2 separate regions of the Homo sapiens genome follow, and region 2 is linked to region 1. The links come from fine-mapping of genetic effects on gene expression. A gene starts in region 1. The other region holds a variant in brackets. All regions are shown on one strand. Distances are from middle to middle.

Region 1 (12,085 bases):
TCTGCTTGCCTTCCATCCTCTTTTTCGCACTTCCTCGGGGCTGGTGAAGGTAAGCTGGCTTCACTCATGTATGTCACCCCCCAAAGGATGAGAGAGTAACAAGGTAGAAAAAAACGAGGATCCCTGGGTGTCCTTATGGAGCAGAGTCATCCACTTGCCTAGGTCTGCATTGATATGAAAGACAAAAGTAAATCTGTGGCTTGTCTGAGCCACTCTGTTTTGAAGATTTATTAGTACTCTAAATAATTATTATACTTTACAGTTTACTGTGTACCTTCCAAATGTTAAAATCTAAAATATCTGACATTGGGGGCTGAGTAATTTTTTTAAAAAGATAAAAGATAAAATATCCATCCATTCATTCATTCATTCTTTCATTAATTCAACAACTATTAAGTACATATTATATATTAGCCCTGCTTTAGGTTCTGAGTACACAACTGAGCAAGACACATCAAGTCCCTGTACTCGCGAAGCTTTCATCATAGTTAGAGAGGGGTTGGCAGAGAGATAATAACAAAGTAAACAAAATTTTAAAAAATAATAATTTCAGAACATGGTAGTTTAAAGTGAAGGCTCAAGAGTCAGATTGTCTGTGTGTTAGTCCAGACTCTGGCATTTATGCACTGTGGTAACCAACTTCCAAGGATGGCCCCCACTCAACCCCCCACCGCCCCCACTGAACCATACCTCCTGGTATTCATGCTCTCATACAAGCCCTGCTCTTCAATCTGGGATGGCCCCAGAACTCACTTTTGACCAGCAGAATGAAGCAGAAGTGATGTTGTGTAACTTCCAGGGCTAGGTCATAAGAAGACTTCTGTCTTGCCTCTGGGTCTTATGGAATGCTCACTCTGAAGGAAGCTGGCTACTGTGTTAGAACTTCAGCCACCTAAGATTGTCAGGTTGAGGAAGCCACATGGAGACGCCGTCTGGAGAGAGATGCTGGCCCAGAACTAGCTGCTCCTGCCATCCCAGCTGAGGCCTGGATGTGTGAATGAAGAAGTCCCCTTTGATTTCAGCTTGGTCCAGCCTTTACATGACTCTAGCCAGGTAAGATGCCTTCTGGCTGCAACACCATGACAGTCCCCACATGGGAACCACCCAGCTGCTCAGTCAACCCATAGAACCAAGAGAAATAATAATAACTTAAGTCACTAATTTGGGTATTACACAGCAATAGACGACTAGAACACTAATTTTATGAACTAAAGAAGTTTGTTAATTTATCTGTGTTTCAGTTTTCTCATCTATAAGGTTCCTACCTTATAAAGTTTTTATGAGGGCTAAATTTGTTAAACTGGAAAGGGCTTTAGAACAGTGCCTGGTATGTGATAAACAGTAAATGTTAGCTACTGCTTTTTATTATTAATAAATAAAATAGAATCATGGAACAAAACTATTCTTCATTGGATGCTCAGAAAAGTTCTCACATGAAAATGACAGTTGAGCTCAGACCTGAAATCTAAGGGCTCAGCCATGCAGAGAGCCGGACAAAAACATCCAAACTGGAAAACCAGCAAGGCAAGGGTCCTGAGGGAGGAATGGGTGTTGTGTCTTGGAGGAGCACAGACATGGCCGGCGTGGTTAAAGGGTAGCAAGCAAACCAGTCATACAAGCCACAATAGGAAGTGTGGATTTTATATTAAACACAATGAGAAGCTTTAAGAGATTTTAAGCAGGGGAATGACTTGAACCACTGTATTGGCAATAGATTTTAAGAGGACAAGAATGGAAACAAAAAGACCATTTAAGAGACTGTTATCATCTGAGTGACTTTAGTGACTCGATCCGGTGTTTAGCAGAGGAAATGGTGAGAAGAGGGCAGATTTGGGGATATGTTAGTTGAATGAGTGGCCCTCGGATGGCCCATCAGGTTTCTACGGTAGAGATGAGATTTTTATTTTAACAAAGTCCTTCTGGCGATTACGTTACTTAAACCATCTTAGACAGGGTTCTAAGCATTATATCCCAGGACAGCTCAAGTCTATCTCATTTTGTATAATTTCGGGATCAATGGTTACATATTCTAAATAGGGAATAACAGAATAGAAGCTTTCTCACATTTACTATGATTATTCAAACAGCAAAAACCATTCATGGCAATGTGACTCAGTGGAAGGAATAATACGAGGCAAATCAGGACACAGGGTCAGGTGGGCAGTACTGTCCCTGATACCTCACTGGAACAGAGTTTGTGATTATTTATGGCCTCCTTGGTCCCCAGCCCCATCCAATTCTGACAAACTATTACTTTGTGTCTCTATTTTAAACTGCTTCATCACCTGGAAATATTTCATCTTCCTAAAGTCAGGATTCACACTCAGTACTTTCCTGCTGGTCCTAAGATCTAAACCCTGCAACTCTTGTCTCCTCAAAGCTGAAAGCACCTGCCACCAGGAAATAATCCCAAAGAGGTAATCACCCGAAGGAGCCTTTGATTCCAGTGCCCATACTCTCCCAAGCTGACAGGAAGGAGGCTGACAGCAAGTTGGCCTGTATTGTTTTATGCCCATCAATAAACTATATTTAACATATAAGTGCATTACAGAGGTCTCCCATACAACCTAGAAGATTTATTCTTTTTGTGAAAGCTTGGGAGGTTTTGCTTTCAAGCTTTATTTTAAGATACAGAATAGTCATCACTCAAGCCAGTTTTTCTAAAACTTTATTACAGGGGAAAGCCTCTGGCATACATTTCTAATACACTGTTCATTTCATGTGGCAGCTCTTTCTTTAGTAGTGCCAACAGAAAGGAGAGAAAATACATGAAATGAGAGAATGGAGGCAAAAGTCCCTGCATGGTACCTGACTCAGGAGTCGCTCAGTCCTTTTCTCTCTCTTTCCTAACACTGACAGGGTCTAATAAAATTATTCTAGTATTAGAAAACTTAGGAGGACATTAAACTGGCTTTGCAAAATTTTTAACTCTCTTTGTCTGCCCGAGTTTTCTCTGGCCCACTTACACCTTAGGGTAAATTCTGACTTTCAAGTGCATAGGCTTGGCTGCTTTCAAAGCTGTATTGTGGAACATGTGAAATGCAAGATTAACTCCTGGATTCAAAGAACCATGCAGAATCTTTCCCTAGACTTTATTGTTGTTATTTGCCACCTTTAAATCTTAGCAATGTGGCATCTTATCTACAATTCACTGAATTAAATGTGAAAAGAGGGGGTTAAGGTATAGTGAACACGCAGAAGACTTCTAATTACTGAATGGATTTATACCATCCAGGATTTATACCATCTCCCAGCTGGTGCCAGGTAAAGGTAGCAGCAATACCCAGCATCACTGTTATTGACCTTCTTAGCTAGCCACCAAGCTCACTAGTGCCATATTCACTTTGGCTGCCAAAATATAACAGGACAGCACCACTATAATTTAGAATGAGCAAAGAGAGGTAATGCTCACTTTATTAAATAAAGTTAAAATTTAATGAAACAAAGTCAGAGTTTGATAGGCATATAAGCGGGAGATAGACAACAGTCAATCAGCAGCAAACAAAGTATATGGAGATAATTATGTAAAATCAAAAAAGAGGCACCTGGCTGGGCACGGTGGCTCATGCCTGTAATCCCAGCACTTTGGGAGTCTGAAGTGGGTAGATCAGGAGTTTGAAACCAGCCTGGCCAAAATGGTGAAACCCCACCTCTACTAAAAATACAAAAATTAGATAGGCATGGTGGCAGGCACCTGTAATTCTAGCTACTCGGGAGGCTGAGGCATGAGAATCTCTTGAACCTGGGAGGCGGAGGTTGCAGTTAGCCTAGATCGTGCTGATGCACTCCAGCTTGGGTGACAGAGCAAGACTCCATCAAAAAAAGAAAAAAAAAAGGCGTCAACTTTTTTTTGCATAGAAAGTTGGCAAATATTTGAAGTGGTGGTAGTTACCATCAAATAAAATGAATAAAACATCTGGAGGTGCTAATTAGAAATGAAGAAAAAAGAGAATGGGCAGTTTTGCCAATTTGCCAGCCTGTGTCTCCTGACCAAATGATGAGGAGTAAGAGAAAAGGATTAACATTTAAATTTAAAGGCATATTTTTCCCCTGAGAAAGATTATGTAATGGCATATGAAGTCAGTTCAAAGGAAGCCTATGATGTTTTCCTTCTCATAAAAAAGGAAGCAAATTATTCCATCCAAGTGCAACTGAATCAAATTTGAACTTCCTGTAAATGTATCAGCTGATAAACCAGGATTTAAGTTCAAGGGTACATTCCATGCCTAATCTTCATTTTACAGCTTTCAGAGATAAAATTTCCTTAGCACTAAAATCTTTCAAAGATAGTCTCTCTTGCAAAACAAATTGTTAGAAGTGAGCAGCAAATTGGCCAGATGCCTCTGGGGCATAAATGTTTCTTAAAAGTCAGGTAAGAACTTTTAGAAATGATCTCATACTTTCAAATCACGAGTTTTCTATTTCGTGCTTTGGAACAGAAATGGTCAACTTACCAAAAGGGTTAATACAGCTTCTCAAAAGTGCTTGTCTTCTCACAGAATATAGTTTATATTTTGGGAGAATTTGGCACAGCTTAAGTTACAGCTTAAATGACTTGCTCAGTAGAATCCAACAAGAAGTCATTTCTCCCACCCATTTGTCCCTAAGTGTTTATTAGCAGGGATAGACACAAAATTTTAAAAGAAAAAAAGTATTTTTCATATGAATATTCTCTCTCCAAGACTTCATATCAAGATACATAAGCAACAGTATTCTTCGACTCTTACTCCCAAACTGGAAGCCATCTTTTACAGAATTTTAGAAACACTCCAAAATTTATTATCAGCCCACTAGCCTTTCTCAGCCCAAATGTCTTACTGCAAGATAAATGGACATGGGACTTAATTATTTCTTATATGGCTATGAAGAAAAATAATTGCTAAGCATAAAAACCAGCCTATGACATGAGGCTAGTTTTACATGCTTCCAGAAATTGGTACTTTTAAGTTTCCAACATTGAAAAATATACAGACAACAGAAATCTTTTCAGTGGTACATATTACTATGATTTTTACTATCTCCCCAGACAGCCTGAGCAGTCCATTAACTAAGGTGTAACAGAGACCCAGAGCCAAAAAGAAAAAAAAATGGCTCCAACAAGAAAAATCACAGCTTAATGTATGCAGTAAGGCCATAGTTTGGATTTATAATAATTATCACATTCCAGAGCCCAAATTAATTATTTGTAGTTATTTTGCAGATATCTTAGTAGCTACACACACACACACACACACACACACACATTTCACAAAGTATTGGCCAATGCCCATTTTCACATAGCTCTTTAGTCTAAAAATAACTTTAACTTTCATGTTTTACCAAGACTGAGAAAAGGGAGAGCAAATCAAAGGAAACTAGTTGAGGAATTAGTGAAGAAATTTTTAACAGGCCTGCTGGGTGTTCTCTCACTGCTGTCTTGAACCTCAGATTAAATTATTATACTTTCTGTGTTGTAGTACTGGGTCATTCGTATGTGAAGACAAAGGCAACTTCAACTTGATATTTCTGTCATCCCTGCTGTGGGAAGAGTCCTTTTCCTGGTTTATAACATCAATCATTCTCACAATAAATCTTAGGGTGGATGTGGTCATTTAAATCTCCACCTGCACAAACAACAGAAAATAAGAGAGCTCATAAATCTCTACACTGGTGATTAACAAATTTTGGATCCTCAGCGAAGATATTATGGAAGAGGGGTCGCTAATTCATTAATAAAGACTGATTTGCTGACAACCTGTTTAGTTTACAGCATAGGGGGAAAGCAAACAAGACCCTGCTAGCAAAACAAAACGTTAGAGGTTAGTGAATTCCCAGCTGAGCCTAGGATTAGAGATATGATATCTTAATGTAGGAGAAGCCTTCAGACCCTAAGCCAACCACTCAGAAACCACTCTTACATTTTGCTCCAGCCCCTCAACTTCAATGCCTACCTGCAAGGGAAGAAAACCTGGCAAAGAAATTGTAAGAGAGATTTATGCCTTCAGTCTCCCTGGTTTCATTGCACCAATTTCATCCAATCCCTAGGTTCTGTTTCCCTGTGCTTTTTCTACCTACTTCCCAGGAGACTTTCTTATTCTCTAGGAAAGGTGGTTCGAGCTGGGGTTAAAGATGGAAAAGAACCTTTCTCAAAAGGATAGTCTTGCTTTGTGTTGTGTAATGTCAGCTTCATGTGAGGAACACTGGCACCTAACAGGCTGGAAGAAGACAAAGACAGCAGCATTGAAAGGGACGGTGCATCACAAAAAGTGCCAGGCAAGGTGATGTCTGAGAGCAACAAAGACTCTCAAGGCAATATTAAATGCATTTCTAGAAAAGAAAAAAAAACCGAGGGGAAAGTTTCCATTTATTAGGAAAAGATGATCAACTAACATAATGTTTTCCACACACTCATACTGCCCTCTCATTCCCTACCCACTCCCACTAAGCTGTGTGTGGTTGGGTTTGAGTGTGCAAATCAAGTATGTTTGTGTACACGTAGGCAGTCCTTTGATGTCTTGAAAATGACCAGGTGTAGGTGAAATGTTTTATACTTACTTTTCCATCACCATAAAGATTCTAGGAAGCACTTGTCTTCATTTATCCCGGGGAAGGTGGAAGATCTCGGTAAAGCCTTGGAGTCTTATGAGGTGTTGGCAGGATGCGGTTGATACTCCCTGTATTTTAATTCGTGTTTTCTTGGGAGGAGAGAGGGCATGGAGTGTAGGTGGAAGGCCCAGAAAGAGCCAAACGATCTAGTCGTTTTTCTAAAGTTCTCAGTAACAACCAGTTGTGACGTCTTAAGAGAGAAAGAAGGCCTTTTACAGATGGACAGAACATGCTGCTTCTCGGCCCCGGCCACAGTTGGGAGAAGGTGGCTGGTAAGTACATGATGCAGTTGAGTTGATTTACATTACAAGTTGCAAATCAGGGTCTGTGCATTGAGTTTCCCTCCGGTTGTGAAAGGGGTCTAAGCGCTTTGCTGGGGCCTGGCAGGCCCCTCCCTGGGCTGCAAGGATCCGCCCCTCTATTCCCCAGATAAATTCCTAGTGTCCACCAAATTCCTCAGCGCTCGCTCACCCTCCTCTACGGCCACGACTCTGGGAGTGGGGAAACAGAGAGCCGGTTCCTCTGCTGCAGAAGTCCTCGGGGTTCCTTCTCACAACTCTGCGAAGGGGAAAGGGTTGTGAGACCCAACCAGACCCCAACTCCAGCTCCCAGCAGGAGGTGGCTGCGCCACACTCGGGAGGCCTCTTGGTTTCAGGGTCTCTCTGTCTCTCTCTCACCCTCTTCCTCGCTTTCTCTGTCTCTCTGTCTCTCTCTCTCTCTCTCCCTCGTCCACTCCCCCAAACATGTCCACCGGCTCCCTCAGCGATGTGGAGGACCTTCAAGAGGTGGAGATGTTGGAATGTGACGGGTTGAAAATGGATTCGAACAAGGAATTTGTGACTTCCAACGAGAGCACCGAGGAGAGCTCCAACTGCGAGAATGGGTCTCCCCAGAAGGGCCGCGGCGGCCTGGGCAAGAGGAGGAAGGCGCCCACCAAGAAGAGCCCCCTGAGCGGGGTCAGCCAGGAGGGGAAGCAGGTCCAGCGCAACGCCGCCAACGCGCGAGAGCGGGCCCGCATGCGAGTGCTGAGCAAGGCCTTCTCCAGACTCAAGACCACCCTGCCCTGGGTGCCCCCCGACACCAAGCTCTCCAAGCTGGACACGCTCAGGCTGGCGTCCAGCTACATCGCCCACTTGAGGCAGATCCTGGCTAACGACAAATACGAGAACGGGTACATTCACCCGGTCAACCTGGTGAGTGCTCCCGGGGCTGCAGCTGCAGTCCAGGCGCGCCCGCACTCCCGCCTGCGGTGGGCGCGAGTGCGCGCGGGGCTGGGAGTGGGGGTGTGGGCGCGGCGGTGACTTACACATCTCGACCACCGCGGGCCTAGAGCCTCCAGGGACCGGAGGCGGGCGGTCTAGACACGGCCCTCGCTCTCTGCCCTACCAGCCCCCGGAGCGGGAGTGATTTATGCGAGGGTTTGACGTGGCAGCCCAATTAAAAGTTTGCAAGTGTGTTGAGCTGGCACAGAGGAGGGATCCCCCGCTCCCGCTCCATCGCCATCCTCCCTGGGGTGCAGTGGCTGCTGCGGAACTGAGAACACTGACAAGACGCTGCGAGCGGACAGGCATTTTGTTAATCCTTTTTTCTTCTTTTAGCAGAGAGTGGAACTTGATTTTCCTTTCCTTGTAAATAAAAACACCCAACTCCGTTTCTTTCACAAGCATATTTAGGACCATTGGATAAGGACACATCTATGCCCCCCAAATTGTCCACGTAAGCCCTTAACCGCTTAAATATTCTGTGCTTCTCCTATAAGTGGATTAATATTTTTAAATCCCAGAAGTTCTAGTAATGATCAGCAAAATCAGTAAATCCTCACTAGTATGAGTGTAATAAATACTAAAATAGGTCACTCTCACCCAAGATTTAAGAAATGTTACCTTTTATCTTAAAAAGTAATGCCCATTGAGCCTAATTTTTTAACACAAAAAACTGATAATCATTGAGTCTACTTTTTTCTCAAATGTATTTTACTGTTTAAGAAATATATCTTAATTTTTTTCATTTGATTTTATTTTAAAACTTCTAAGATCTAAAGAAAAACAATAACAACAACTTACTAGGATCTCTGTTTGTATATGATAAGAATGAGAGATTTTTCCTTTTAAAAGGCAAGTCTTATCAGCTAGCACTAGAGCAGTAGTGAGAGGGGTCTGAATTGTCTTCTCACCGAATTGGTTTCTGGAATTGCTGGAGAAGAAGATGCAAACCCACATTTTACCATGAAAAATGTTTTCTCTCCAATTGAAAGTTTGGGGTTTTTCCCCCCCAATGAGTAAATAGCTTTTTAAAATCTCCACCTAAAATGAAAGTGTTGCCTCGAATATTTACAACTGCTACTCTCTTCATCTTTGAATAAGAAACTTAAATGAGCTTTATTATAAAACAGCCCGGAGAAAGGAAGAGAAAGCATACTTTCTCAGTCCAGCATGAAGACGATCTTAAATTAAAAGTCAATGTAGTATAGCATTTTTTTTTCCTTAAGAGGTGGTGATTAATCTAGAAGCTGTAGTCAAAGCCGGTGTTTGCGATGGAAGAAACGAAAGTCGGACTAGGGAAATAGATGGTGATGAAAGGCGATGAAAGCGACAGGGCCCTGAAACCCGACCACCGCCTCAGAAGGAGGCCAGGAGGGCGCTTCGCCCCGAACTCGGTGCCCAGTAGGCACAAGGTCGTTCTGGGCTTCCCGGCTCAGACTGCCAAAGCGTCTGCCTCCAGGCAGTGCCACAGCACCACCCACTCTCCCACTCTCGGCTTGCCCGGGGCTTCCTGCATTGAGTCTCACAAGGAACCCAGTATAAGCCCTTTTGGCTCTCATTCTAAAAGACCACCACCAGCACCACCACCACCTCGAGCTGTGACTTGGCGCCAAAGCAGCTATTTGCTTTATGCAGCCGCAGGGTGCGCTAGGACCGGGAGTAAATTGCAGAGATAACCGGTCTCTCCAGAGCACCGCCTGCCCCCACCGCCCCCCTTCCTTTCATCTCAGGCCCCGAGTCCACCCCACCCCCTCCGCCACGGCCACTTACCTCCTCCACCCTCTTCTTTCCCGCAGACGTGGCCCTTTATGGTGGCCGGGAAACCCGAGAGTGACCTGAAAGAAGTGGTGACCGCGAGCCGCTTATGTGGAACCACCGCGTCCTGACCTTGGAGGTGCGAGTCTGGGAAAGGCGCGCTCCCGGGGGGAGCGGGCCCCGGGAAGGCGACCCCTGCCCTCAGTGCTCTCTGTCTCTGCTTCCCCCTCGCAATGCTCCTCTCTCTGTCCCACCCCGCGAGAACACTTTACAACGACGAGGAGATTCGTTTCCAAACCAGAGGAGATCAATTGTACTTACAAAGATTCCCATCTATTTAACTTTATTAACTTCTACCGTGAATGACTCTGCAAGCCTTGCTGGTCCAAGTGCAATATGTAATTATAAATATATAAATAGATAAGAGCCTATCAATGTATCTTTTGTACAATATGTTGTAAAATGTAGATCATAGGATAGCTGACTTTGACAGTCACATTTATAAAGTAATTCACTTAAAGATATATATTTTTTTCAAACAAGTTTTGCTACTTTTGAAAATAAATCTTTCTTTATATTGCTAAAAGCTCTGATATTTGGAGTGATTTTTAAAAATATTTGGAATAAGAAAGTGGGAAACTATGGGGAAGCTTGATAATGAAAATGGTTCTTTTAAACCTCAATCTAAACTTCTAGAGATAGAAGAAAATTGCATATGAGTTTCATAATGAAGATGCAGATTATGTTTTATACTGAAACCTTAAAAAAGAAATATATCGGTTACTTTTAAGGCTAATAGAAATTATATAACTGAAAACAAAGAATGGGCAGTATTAAAGTTATCCACAGTTATACAGTTCAAGAGTAAAACGCACCAGAAAAAGGAAATCCAATTTTCATGGATTCCACCGTATGACTGCTGACACGGGCGAGAAAGTAAACTCCACCTTTTGTCACCTTCCAGGTGTGAGCATAGCTGCAAACTAGTGAAGAAATAATAGAAGCTATGAAAGATGTAAATTCCATAACCCTTAGGGTGTGTTTCAGGATTTTCAAAGCTCTGCAGCATACATTATCTACATTTCTTATTAATAGTCCATTAATTAATTCTAACAATAAACCCGCATGCCTGCCTTTTGGTTGCTGTTAGCGGGTGCGTTTAGCTCCCGCCACGACTTCCGGCGGACTGGGTTTAATTTAAACATTTTCCAGGCTACGGAACAGCTCCTAAGGGAAGATTAAGTTGAGATAAACAGAGAAGCAAGGCCGAGGAGCCTGCGACCCGGCTCCCTCACTGCCCCAGCGCAGCCCGCGGCGGCCGATGCGCCAGATGCCACCGGGGCTGTTTAATGTTCGGGGTTATGACCGCAGTGTTTACAAGACGTCTTCGGTTATTTATACTGTTATTCCTCGCAGAGAGCCTTGAAACTTCCGCTTCATTTGCTCTTTCTTTTCGATTTTTTACCCTTTTTTCTCGGCTTAGTTTGGTACCTGGAGCGAGAGCTTCTCCGCCCTTCCACCAACCCCACAGGCCGCTTCGCGGGTGGAGCCCTCTGCCTGGCCATGGAGGAAGGATCCCGCTAGGCTGGTCCCGACTGGAGAAGCTGCTCTGCCAGGTGTGCTCTCTGTCAGCAATAGTGACCTCATTACCAAGGGGTGGCGACCACATTACCAAGCGCAATTCCCCATTCTCCAAGGGCTGAGAACTTCGGTGACTTCATCCACCTGTCTATTTGCACATGGAGGACTTTTCAAGATGTCAGGATACCCTTCCATCACCCCACCACCGCCACCCCAACTTGACTTTCAAGAACACATTTCAAGCTCTGGCCAGAGTCCCGTTCCTCAAATTCATGTGTTCTCTCCTTTCTACCAGAGGGATAGAGCCCATGCCTCAACCTATCCAGAGTTCAAATCAAAGAGTCCCCAGTGTGATTCAATTGATTGCCTTTCACGTTTCGCAAATTTTCCAATCTCCCACTCACGTTTTTACAAAACGAATGCTCTAAATTCTGAGGATTCCAGGCAGGCCATCCATAGAGAAATAACTTTTTCTTGCTCATTCCCTTACAACCCCAATCTATACATGGATTTTTAGAAAGTCTTCATGGCTATCTATAGTTCCCTACCAATAATTTGAAGCCTTTGCTTTAGGCAGGAGGCATGTGGCTATGAATAGGGAACACGTAGATTTGACCCTGGTTCTGCATCCAACTAGCTGTTTCTTGAAAGAGCCTGGATCCTCAGTTTTCCCATCTCTGCAAGCAGGGATAACGGTAATGAGAATGATAATAATCATTATATGCAGACCTTCCTCTTTCATCTTACAGAGGCTTAGTGAGGCTCAGATGAGATTATATCTGTAAAATCCCTTGGTAAAGGAAAAGCTCCGTGAAAATGTCAGTTACTTTTACTAAGTGGCGGGTAGTGAATTATCTGTGCCTAGACCCAAACTGAAAGTGTCTCAGGCAGGAAGTTCCAAG
Region 2 (12,085 bases), 39 kb before region 1:
TGGACTCATGACCTCATAGCTAGGGCTTCAGTGACCTCATCCATAGGATGGAGGAGAAGACTTCCCTAGCAGCAGCTCCAGAGTTCTTTATAAGATGAGCACTCAACAATTCTTGAGTTATGATCATCCTCCCCACACCCAGTTTCAACTCTCAGATGAGGATGTGGCTTCTGACTTAACTGCTGACAAAGTATAAAGTGTACCTCAATCTATCAAGATCCAGTGTGGCTAGCTTTCTATACTCAATTCCACAACATGAATTATTTTTAAAATTTATTGTACTTATAAAATCAATTAAGATTCACTGTAGAAAAATTACTGAATACAGATATACAAGGGAAATCTCCTTAAAAACCACCAAGTACCTTGATGTAGATCCTTTTAAATCTTTTCCTACGTGTATATTGTTTTTAGAAAAATGACATCATATCTAATGCATTTTTTGTAGCCTGCCTTTTTTACTGAATGTATTTACTCAATAAACACTGATTCTTTAGAGAAGTAGAAATATAATTCTTATAAGATTAATTTCAATTCGGGCTGGGCACAGTGGCTTACGCCTATAATCTCAACACTTTGGGAGGCTGAGGCACATGGATCACCTTGAGGTCAGGAGTTCAAGACCAGCCTGGCCAACATGGTGAAACCCTATCTCTACTAAAAATACAAAAAATTAGCCGGGCATGGTGGTGCACACCTATAATCCCAGTTACTTCTGCCTCAGCAGACTGAGGCAGAAGAATCACTTGAACCAGGGAGGCAAAGGTTGCAGTGAGCCAAGATTGTGCCACTGCATTCCAGCCTGGGTGACAGAGCAAGATTGTCTAAAAAAGAAAAAAAAAAAGAAAAAGATTAATCTCAATTCAGTTTTTTCAACATAAGCACAAATATGTCCAATTTGTCATGAGTATAGGGTTTAGGACTAAAAACACAGAACTAAACACCAAATGCAAAGCAATTCTTCCCAAAAAAATAGCTTTCCCCAAATCACTCAGTAATTTCACGATAGAATTCCCAAAATATTAAGAAATCTAGGACTATTACCCTGTAATAATAAAGCCCTCAAAATCTAAAGAAAGAAATAGATCAAAATACATTTATTATTGAGATGTAAGGACAAAGTATTGGAGACTATAAGTTAATAGTCTGAATAATGAATCTAGAGAAAATAGGAGGAAAACGATGGGGGTCACTGCAACCAATTCTGAAAATTCTAGAATGCGTATGTGATCGAACAGAGAAAAAATAAGTGCAATTCATCTATATTTATATATTTAGATAATATATAATATACATTAAATAGATTTAGATAATGTATTAATATTAAATATATTTGTTTATTAAATATATTTATATTAGTATTAATATATACTAAAGTATATATTAATAATATAAGTAACATGCAAAGTATATTGAACCCTCTACTAAATCTCTTAATTAAAACCTAACTGTTTTATTACTTTAGGATTCAACAGCTGTACAAATTTAAGTTCACATTTTCCTGGAGGACTTAATTAGTGAAATAAATGACTAGCAGACTAATTCATAGTAGAGAAATAAGAACTCGGCATTTTGGAATGTGGTATATTTGTTGAATCTCCCTCTGTTCCTTGGCCTTCTCTTGCAAAGTCTGACAATGTTACAAAAGTACATAGCCAAGAGTGAGTGAGGCACAGAGCAAATGTGAAAAACTCTCTTCTATTATACAACAAGACAGTGAAATGTTTTTCTTAGAAAAAAATTCTCTCCCTATCAATAGTCCCAAATACTAATGCAGACTTTATTTCCAAATAAGTTTCTTATGTCAATCTGTTTTAAATAAATTCTGATCACTTTAAAAGCAAAACTTGGGAGAAAATTACATGTTAGTAGGTTTGATCTGTTCAATAGTCTCACAGTGTACTCTCAAACTTGGGTGAACCAGGATTAAGTTCCAGTAGTCTTACAAAAAAAAAGACACACAAAAATCTACTAAAGATGCCATATCACTAGTCTTATACTCATAATGAGAAATTATTAGGCCCATCCAAAGATGATAGAACTTTCCATATTTTTAGTCGCTTCATGTTTACAAGTCACAGATAAACTTCCCTGCAAGGCATCCTGTTCTCCATTCCTGAGATTAAATAAATCAATAATAGAAATCATCTTGCAATACAGATGCTTCCTTCCCCAACCGAAATATTCTTATAAAAATTTAACAAGAAAATTTTCAAACATCTCATAATGTTGTTTTTACAAAGCAACTGTTAGTTATAAACAAGTCTTTTAGGTCTCAAGGAGATTTAAGATACTTCAAAGGCTTGATCTAAACCCTCTAAATCCAGGTTGCTTTCACATATTTTCTAAAACATAGTATGTTAAATTTAATGTTTGAAAAAATGTTTTAAGTGTTTTGTTATGCACTGGAAAAATTTAAACAGATCTTATTCTAAGAAATTAGCATTTTCTGGAACTTCCATTTTTACTAATTCCTTTCTTTACAAAAAATAAAGAAGCAAGTACTGTTTTTCTGTAAATGTTTGCAAACTTATTAAAGAAATAACACATCTCATCTACCCAAGGCAGTGTACATTAACATATTTTTATGTACATTTAAAAAAGAAATTCCTCACAACCTAGTTGTTGCAGATGTTCCTCTTGGTGACTCTTCTTATCAGGAGAGAGACTGATCTGTCTTCTTTTAGTATATCCTATAGGTCAGTGGCAAGAAAAAACAAATAAAGGCCATTTTAATAATTATTAGAAGCTTGTACAAATATTAACTACAAAAACCTGCTATTCTGAATTGTTCAGTTAATATTGAATGATACATAATTTTTTAATTCTGACTGAATAATTTATAAAAACATACATAGTGGTATTTTTTTAAACTAAAAGTTATAGTATACATTTTTTTCCTGTCAGCTTTAAGTGATGGTGTAGATTGGGTTCACCCTGACAGGTTTGGGTTATCTGAAATAAAAGTCACAGTTTCTTAGGGCGGCATTTTTTATTTCATAAGAGTGATTCAATTGAACTGAATAATTTCTCAGCTTTCCACTGTTCTTTCCTAGGAAAAAAGAACTGTATACAACAATAATTTATTATTTCTTGTTTTAGTACATATTTTGAAAGTTTTACAACCCAAAGGAACACAGATAACTCTTTAAAGTTCCATTTCCTCTGAAATAAAACAATGTGTAGCTCTTACCACCAGCTGGACATATTTCCCTCAATTTCAAAATAAAAGAAGAAATGTTGGTCTATTTGTTATACTTGTTATTATTTCTGTTTATCCATGCAAAGTAGCAGAAGTTTAAGAGGCATTCATTTATACCAATTTTGCACAATGAGATCCTGTAATCTTTCCGTTGTATGTGTAATGTATAGAAGGTGTTCATTACTTAGCATATTGAAGAGGCAACCATTGAAAAAAGAAAGATAGTCATATTATGACATTTAATCAGAATTGAGTCATGGTTATAATTATCTGTTACTTTATGCTTCCTGAATTTCCAAATTGTTCCAAAATAGATTAAATATGCATATTTTTAAAAGAAGGAAATTAGAATAATAGTTTTTAATGTTCCAAGGACTTGTCCATTGATGTCCTAGCCCATCTTTTAAATATACAAAGACAATAAAAACACAGGAGTAATAGAAACCAAAGATATGAGCTCTTTCCTTGAAGGAAAAATTATGTAATTGATTTTCAGTTGATATTTTGTAAGGATTGCTGCTAAAAGAATACTGTACTATAGTGAAAACTGAGTTTATTCTGTCTCCTATTACAAAATTAACAATTTAATAATTTTCTTTCTGTTTATTCTTCTAACAATCCTAAATATGAAATTTTATTTTGAGCACTATGTACCTAATTTTGTTAGTTACTACAGAGTGGCAAGTTCAAGTTCTTTTATATCTCCTTTTTTCACACACATGTGCACACACAAAAGCACAGAGTTGTATATCTGAACGCATAGTAATTATTCAAGCAATCATTGGACATTTACTGGGCACTCATGCTTTTAGACAATAATAGAGCTCAGGTTCCTAAAGTGAGAAGATCAGTGTTTATGACAGTTGCTTTGTCCTCTGTATTTTCATCAAGATCCAGCCCCCACCCATTAACACAGAATCTACAAAAGAATTAAACTAAAACATTTTAAATTCCCAATGAGATACGTGCTCATCTTCCAAGTATTCATTCCCTCTTCCCTAGAACATGAGCCTTAATGCCTGTATAGTAAAAGAGCCCAAACTGTTTAACTGTCCAGGTAGTAATAATAGTAACTTGTATTCTTATAGTGCAAGGAAACAAGAGAGAAGATGATAAAATGCAAATTTCCTAATTAGATTCAAAAGTCCATGATAAATTTTTTCTTCCCTCCTGCAAAGACAACAGACATCTGGATTTTATAGTATATTTATTCCATCATTCATTCTCTTATTTATTCACTTATCTTTGTGTCTTTTAACTGGAAACCATTAGACAGTCTATACAATGGTTTTAGAAAGTGATTTGCATACTACTAATGTCAAAATACCTATAGTTTAAAAAGACACATGCACATGTATGTTCATCACAGCATTATTCATAATAGCAAAGACATGGAATCAATCTAGATGCCCATCAATGGTGGACTAGCTAAAGAAAAAGTGGCACATATATACCATGGAATACTACGCAGCCATAACAAAGAATTAAATGACCTTTGCAGCAACATAGACACAGCTGGAGGCCATTATCCTAAGTGAACTAATGATGCAGGAACAAATAACCAAATACCACATGTTCTCACTTATAAATGGGGGGTAAACATTGAGTGCAAAGAGGGAAACAACAAACATTGGGGCCTACTTGAAGGTGGAGTGGGGGAGGAGGGAGAAGTTCAAAAAACTACCTTTTGGGTACTGTGCTCACTATCTCGGTGACAAAATCATTTATACAACAAATCCTAGCAACATGAAATTTGCCCATGTAATAAACCTGCACATGTATCCCCTGAACCTAAAATAAAAGTTGAAAAAGAAAAAAAAAGGAAACATAACCCAATTAATTTGGCTTAAAAGAGTTACAATACCAAAGTAACTTTGACCTCCCTAGAAAATTCAGATGGAATAGTTTCTATCATATTAAATATCCACCAACTAATTTATAGTGTTTGTAAGATGCTATGCATTTATAAAAATCACAGAAACCTCTTTTGAACACTGACTGTTCATTTATAACTTTTCATCATTTTTTTCAAAAGTCATTATTAAAGAAGTGTTTGTTTTCACACACACACACACACACACACACAAAGATTAATTACTGTATTCTATTAGTTACTGTATTCTATTCTGAGGACAGTTTGTCAAGATGCTACTTGTCCTGTGATGTGTAAATAACATATTTATGTTATAAATTGCTACTTGTCCTGGGATATGTAAATAACATATTTATGTTATAAATTTGTGTCATTAAGAAGATAAATATGCACAGCTATAAGAAATATTAAGTTTATTTATATCCATGAAAGAAAGTCAGGTCTCTTTTCTTGCAAAGAAAATTGCTAGAGAATAATTGTGCAATGAAGAATCCTATGTCTGGTGTGCCCAAGTACATTGTCAAATAGTTCCGACATTCTTCATTGCACCAAAGAACCTTCCTACAGTATTCAACACCCAAATATCCTTGGTTCCATGTAGAAGCACACTTGGAACCAAGCTTTCCAACACTTAAGGGAATGTTTGCTGTGTAGAGTATCTTTTGAAGTGCTAGTCAGGACAAAACAGTAAAAAGCTTTAGCCATTAAGATGTCAACTGAGTGAAGTATCCTCACCTGAACTCCATACTGCAAGAACCATGCTGCCATGTTTAAAATTCTGACTCAGACAACTAACTGTACCCAATTCCAAAACACACTTCTTGCCTATACAAGTTTTTAAAAAGAGACTTCAAGGTAAGGGATAAAGCTTGCATCAAGGCTTAGAACATAGATGCATTTAATCAAGATCACACATGAGAGAAAGGGAATTGGAAAGCTCTAAAATCCTGTTGAATCTTATTGCATTAACTGTACAGCTTACACAGTTCAGGAAAGCCCATGTTCTCTTTCAAACAAAATATAAATACTGGATCTGGATTGCTGAGATTATAAAAGAGTCAATGACATCTTTTTCAGGGGTTATTATTTTAACCCTGACGCCATAGCTGCCTGAATAACTAGAATCTGTCTAAGATTCTTTCTTGCTAATTGAAAGAGATCTACTTTATTTTATTTGAAACATTATATATGTTGAGATTTTTGGCCAAGCGCAGTGGCTCACGTCTGTAATCCCAGCACTTTGGGAGGCCGAGGCAGGCGGATCACCTGAGGTCAGGAGTTCAAGACCAGCCTGGCCAACATGGCGAAACCCCATCTCTACAAAAAATACAAAAATTAGTTGGGTGTGGTGGCATGTGCCTGTAGTCCCAGCTCCCTGAAAGCTGAGGCAGGAGAATCGCTTGAACCGGGGAGGCAGAGGTTGCAGTGAGCTGAGATTACGCCACTGCACTCCAGCCTGGGCGACAGAGTGAGACTCATCTCAAAAAAAATACAAAAAACAAACAAACAAAACAAATGATATATGTTGAGATTTTTGCAAAAGTGTTGCTGATCCTACCAAAGTAAGTTTTCTGAATTATCTGCAATTATTAATGTGTATTAACTATGTAGTAATAACCACTAGCTCTATAATTAACTCTGCGCAATGTAAACCTTAATTCAGTTGGAATTACATTCGTTATTTCAAAGATAGTGAACTGCTGTGTGCTACAGATCATGTTCCATGTAATTTTTGAGTTCCAAAAGGTCTCAGATAGTCTAAGAGGTGCTAGGTGAATCTGTGTAATAAATAACACTTTTATAATATCCTAAAGCAGAGATTTTAATAGCTATAGTTGGAAATCAATAAATATCTGTTGGATGAATGTATAACCCCTTTTTACAGAGAACATGTATAAGTGTTAACAGCCATTCATACAATCCAATATCATACCATGTTATGTCCCTGGAGTTCTACTTTGGAAACATTAATTGTTTTAAAATACATGGTGAGCCAGATTCGTCACC[A/G]TTGCAAGACAGAATACCAGAAGTATTCTGCTAAACCTCCTAAAAACACACACACACAAACAAAAACAAATAAGCCTGCTGCCATAGAAATTAGATATTCCTTGATAGGATCAAACCAAAAAAAAGGTTAAAGAAGCTATGCTTACCAAATGGAATAGAACACTACCTAAAGTGTAAGATGCATATTCTATGGGAATACAGATGCTCCTTGACTTAAGATGGGAGTTACCTTCCGATGAACCCATTGTAAGCTGAAACTATCATAAGTTGAAAATGCACTTAATACACCTAATATGCCAAATAGCATAATTTAGCCTAGTCTACCTTAAGTGTGCTCAGAACCCTGACATTAGCCTACAGTTGGGCAAAATTATCTAATGCAAAGCGGATTTTATAATAGAGTGTTAAATATCTCATGTAATTTATTGACTACAGTGCACTGTGTAGTATCTGTTGTTTACTGTTGTGATCGTGGCTGCCTGGGAGCTGCAGTTTGCTGCCACTGCCCAGTGTCAGAAGAGGGTATCCTACTGTGCATTGCTAGGCCAGGAAAAGATCAAAACTCGAAATTCAAAGTGTGGTTTCTACTGAATGTATATTGCTTTCACACCATTGTAAAATTGAAAAATTGTTCAGTTAAACCATTGTAAATCGGGAGCCTTCTGCATAGGAATTACAATAGCAAGCATCCAAGAGTTAGGGATTAGCAGAATCAAAAAATAATCATCCAAATTGTACCAGATGGAAAGTCCATAAGCAAACATAGTTAGTTCCTAACACTTGAAAGTAACTTAATTTGGTTAATTATATTAATTTGCCTATCTGCAAACAAAACAAATATTTTTCTGTTTTCTAGATCCCTTGTTTCCAACTGGTTCAAATAAATAGACAACTCTTCATTCCGATGGTACTTCTTAGAGATAAACCACATGCATGTATCAGAGAAAACAACTCTCAGCCTGGTAAATGAACAGGAAAAACTTGGGTTAGAATTCTATTTCTTTCAAGGTAGAGAGCAAATTTTCATAATCTCACATGGACATACAGACCAAGCCATGCATGGCACTATCTACATAATCAAGGCGGAGAACACAAAAACTTGGATATGAATGTTCACAGCAGCATTATTCATAATAGTCAAAAAATGGAAACAACCGAAATGCCCACCAACTGATGCATGAATAAACAAAATGCAGTGCATCCATTCAATGGAATATTATTCAGCCATTAAAAAGGATAAATTACTGATACATGCTACAACATGTATGAACTTCAAAAACATATGCTAAGTGAAAGAAGCCAGCCATCAAGGACCACAAATTGTATTATTCAATTTATATGAAATTCTAAAGTAGGCAAATCTGCAAAGACAAAATAGTTTAGTGGTTGTATAGGGCTGGGGTCAGGAGAGGAGAATAGGAGTGACTGCCAGTGAGCAAGAGGTTTCTGGTGAAAACATGGAGAGGAGGCTTGAATAATTATCTGAGGTTAGATTTGTTATCTGGAGGCACCATTACCTACTTAATTTCCTACACAACTCAAATTCACTAGAAAACTACTGTTGGCTGTACTTTTTTGATAATGTAATTCCTGTATTTCAAAACTGTTTTTAAGGGTTTTCTTAATCTCTCCCTTAAAAAACAAATACTGAGACAGTTACAAAGTAAAATACACTTTTTAAAATTTTACTTTCAAAAGAAGATAATCAAAAGTGATACAATCATCACAATTGGCATTAAATTATTGTTTTGATCTTAATATTTTATTCCCCATTCATTTGCTGTTCCTTTTTGTCTGTTCTAATGCTATAATAACTTACCTCAGCTTTAACAAAATGAAACTTTGTTTTCATGCTTTATTAACCTGAAGCTAATAATTTTACCTTAGGTGTTATCAAAAAGTGACTTATTTTTAGGATGTTAATATCTCAAACAACAGTGTTATGCTCTGCCACCTACCAAACTCTGGAGTGAGAAAATCCAATCAGTTTAACCGACCTTGCACAATTAAACCATCAAATACATTCCATATGCGGGCTTGTTGGCTCGTGCCTGTAATCCCAGCACTTTGGGAGGTCGAGGCAGGTGGATCGCTTGAGCCCAGGACTTCAAGACCAGCCTAGGCAACATGGTGAAACCCTGTCTTTTCTAAAAATACAAAAATTAGCCAACCGTGATAGTGTGCTCCTGGGAAGGCTAAGGTGGGAGAATCCTTGAGGCCAGGAGGTTGAGGCTGCAGTGAGCTGTGATTGCACCACTGCACTTTAGTCTGGGTGACAGAGCAAGACCCTGTCTCAAACAAACAAAAAATCTATAATGGAAAACTTAGAAATCTAATTGGATAATCCTAAGAAACTCCCTCCTGCTCCTAGTTCCTCCCTCAAGTTCTCTAAAAGGTTCAGGAAACAATTATAACACTGACATCTAAATGTAATTTGTAAAGTATTTCTTATGTTCTCCCTGGTATTCTCCTTAAAATCATCCTAGCTTTCCCAGAACCTAGACAATATTGTCTTCTAGTTAAAATTTTCATATGCTGATGTTTTCTGCCATTTCTGTTTGGCAGAAAAGCAAACTGGAAAACTTGATAAACAAGAAAGACCTCAAGTAACAAAAATTATATGTCATTCTTGGCTCAACTAACAGCTCCAAACCTCTGAAATGTGGTAGATCTTTTTCCAAAGGAAGATCTTACTAACTCTCAGTGTAAATCTGTACCTTAACTTTATCACTGTTTAAAACCCATCTCTAAATAACATAGGCCAAGATCTCCAAAATCGATAATGGGGAAACTGCTCAACAGCATTCCAGAAGTTCTTAACCATAAGAGTGATGCTATAGTAGAAAGTAAACCGTGAGGCATCATGCATCTTGACTGAAAATTCCACCCCACACCCACTGAGCTAATCTGGAGCCGCCATAGAAGACAGGGAAGTTGGAAGTAGAGACCTTTGCGTAGGCCATCACCCCTCGCCATCAATCAAAAGGAATTCTGTGAGCTTCTACTGAGAGCCTAGAGCTCTGGTCAGCAGCACAAAGACAGAGCCAGGCAGAAACAACTCCAGAGCCACACCTCCTCTGAAAGACAATTGTCAGGTGAGATTTTCAAATAAAACCACTGGGGATTATCCACTATCTCCCCAAGAAATTCAAATGTTTAGAAATATAAACACAACACATACTTTTTTTCAGTATTTTATAAAGTTCAACAGTTTTGATGATAATCACATGTATGCCAAATGATTTGTAAAGTGTAAAATTTGAAAAAGATCAGATATTAAATAACAAATTGAATGAGAAAATACGACAACAATAAAAAAAAGTTTTATGAATGGACTACCAGTTTTTGCTTTTTTGAAAAGAAATATTACAATAAGGTTATTTGCTCAAATAAAACCTACCTGACACTCTTGCAAATGTTTAGGGAGGGAAAGTGTGTCTCCCTTTATATTTACTGTTTCTCTCTGAAGCCAATTTCATTTTTTTCAACATCCTGGCCATCTGCATTCATATAAAGTGGTTATTTTCATGGATAATTCACCTTATATATGAAATATAAAAGGTATCTGGAATAAATTCATTGCAAAATTGATGTTACCTGTTAAATCTTCCTAGTAGTTTGTTTTCACCAAAATAAAATGAGTGAGATTTACTGCTTTCCTCTGATTTTTTTTCTACTTCAGTAACAGTTTTAGAAGCAAGTGAATAATTATCTTTTACTTTAGATATCTTGAAATTTGCTTGAAGTCATTCTGGACCCCTTTACAAAAGCTACCTGCGGACCAATCCTGGGGCTCATATTAATTTTACAGACGTCGGGCACCCAGGGTTGCCCCGAGTAGGGGAGGGTGGAGTGCGCGATGCCACGTGTAAGTTAGCAATCATCGGCTCTATTAAAACGGTTCCATATCTTCCAGCCCCGCACTCATGATTCACAGTAATGCCTAGTGTTAGCACTCACTAATCGACAATTTGATGGGGAAGGTGAGGAGGAAAACGACCCTGGAAGCAGAGTGCTGGTTTCACACCCGCTGGGTATCTGTTACATGTGAATTTCCTCTGGCGCCAGCAGGTATTTTGAGCAGGCATCTAGAGGGATCCCAGAGGGGAAAGATGGGAGTGCGTAAGATGGAGCTGTAAGCCTGCGGATCAAAGCTTTAAATATCCCAGAGGAAATCGGTAACATCCGGATTGATTGGCCGAAGGGGTTTAAGTGGAATGGGGAAGATAATTCGAATTTCTGAGGTTTAGAGGAGCAGGGGAAGAGGGTGGAAAGGTAGGGAGTAAACAAGATCTCAGAGGAGAGCCCACATTAGACAGGCGCACATTGAAGATGGGAGGCTTTACCCTCGCTTTTAGCCCTGGGAACCCCAGAGGGCAACTCCAGTCAGCAGATAGTGCCAGCGTGCAGGGGATGGGCTGCGACCGCTCCCAGTGACCCCACGAAACCCAGAGGGGAGGCTGAGGCTCTGAGGCCAGCCAGGGGAGCTGACGATCTCGCAGAAGCCGCGGCGAGTCTCCCCCGGAGGTCTAGGAGGCAGAGCCATTAAAGCCAGGCTGCCCGCTGAAACGCACAGTAAAAGTGACTGCGATTTATTTGGATTAGTCAGTATAAAGGTCTGGGGAGACAGCTATTTATTCGATACGGGACCTTGACAAATTGGGCAGTGCAAGAAAGGACAGTCCCTCTGACCTCAGGCGGTGCTGGGGCGGAAGGTAGGAACCTCCCACCTGCTCCTGGCCCCAGGGGGCGCGCATGCCCAGCGGGAGCGCATCTTCACCTGCGGACGTGAGGCTGCAGCGCTGCCGGCCCCAGCCAGCCAGGGTGCCCTCTCCCGGCTTGAGGGGTTCGTATTGCTGCCTCCAGGCCTCCAAGGGAGATTTCCGCTCACTCTCTGGCGGCACCTTCTCCCCAGCTTCTGGGACGGTCACCAAATCTGAGATCCTGCCCGGTTACCCTGCAGGTGACCCAGTACCCCCGAAGGGTCCACCTGGATAAAAGTC

Evidence for each region.
Region 2: its variant is fine-mapped to the expression of TCF21 in atrial appendage (GTEx, PIP above 0.99).

The regions. Positions count from the first base shown.
Region 1 is chr6:133,882,070-133,894,154 of GRCh38, forward strand. TCF21 (transcription factor 21) reads left to right here and starts at 7,044. Exons shown (of 2, transcript NM_003206.4): 1 at 7,044-7,778; 2 at 9,644-10,188. The coding sequence starts at 7,329. The coding sequence ends at 9,733. TARID (TCF21 antisense RNA inducing promoter demethylation) reads right to left here and starts at 6,937. Exons shown (of 9, transcript NR_109982.1): 1 at 6,535-6,937. RefSeq lists enhancers at 6,592-7,505, 8,757-9,521, 10,407-11,015.
Region 2 is chr6:133,843,259-133,855,343 of GRCh38, forward strand. TARID (TCF21 antisense RNA inducing promoter demethylation) reads right to left here. Exons shown (of 9, transcript NR_109982.1): 2 at 2,619-2,693. It overlaps LINC01312 (long intergenic non-protein coding RNA 1312), which reads left to right. Exons shown (of 3, transcript NR_027030.1): 3 at 7,939-10,734. Among named protein-coding and RNA genes, the nearest start is that of LINC01312, 28 kb to the left of the region's middle. RefSeq lists an enhancer at 10,916-11,654. The variant A/G (reference allele first, on the strand shown) is at 7,083.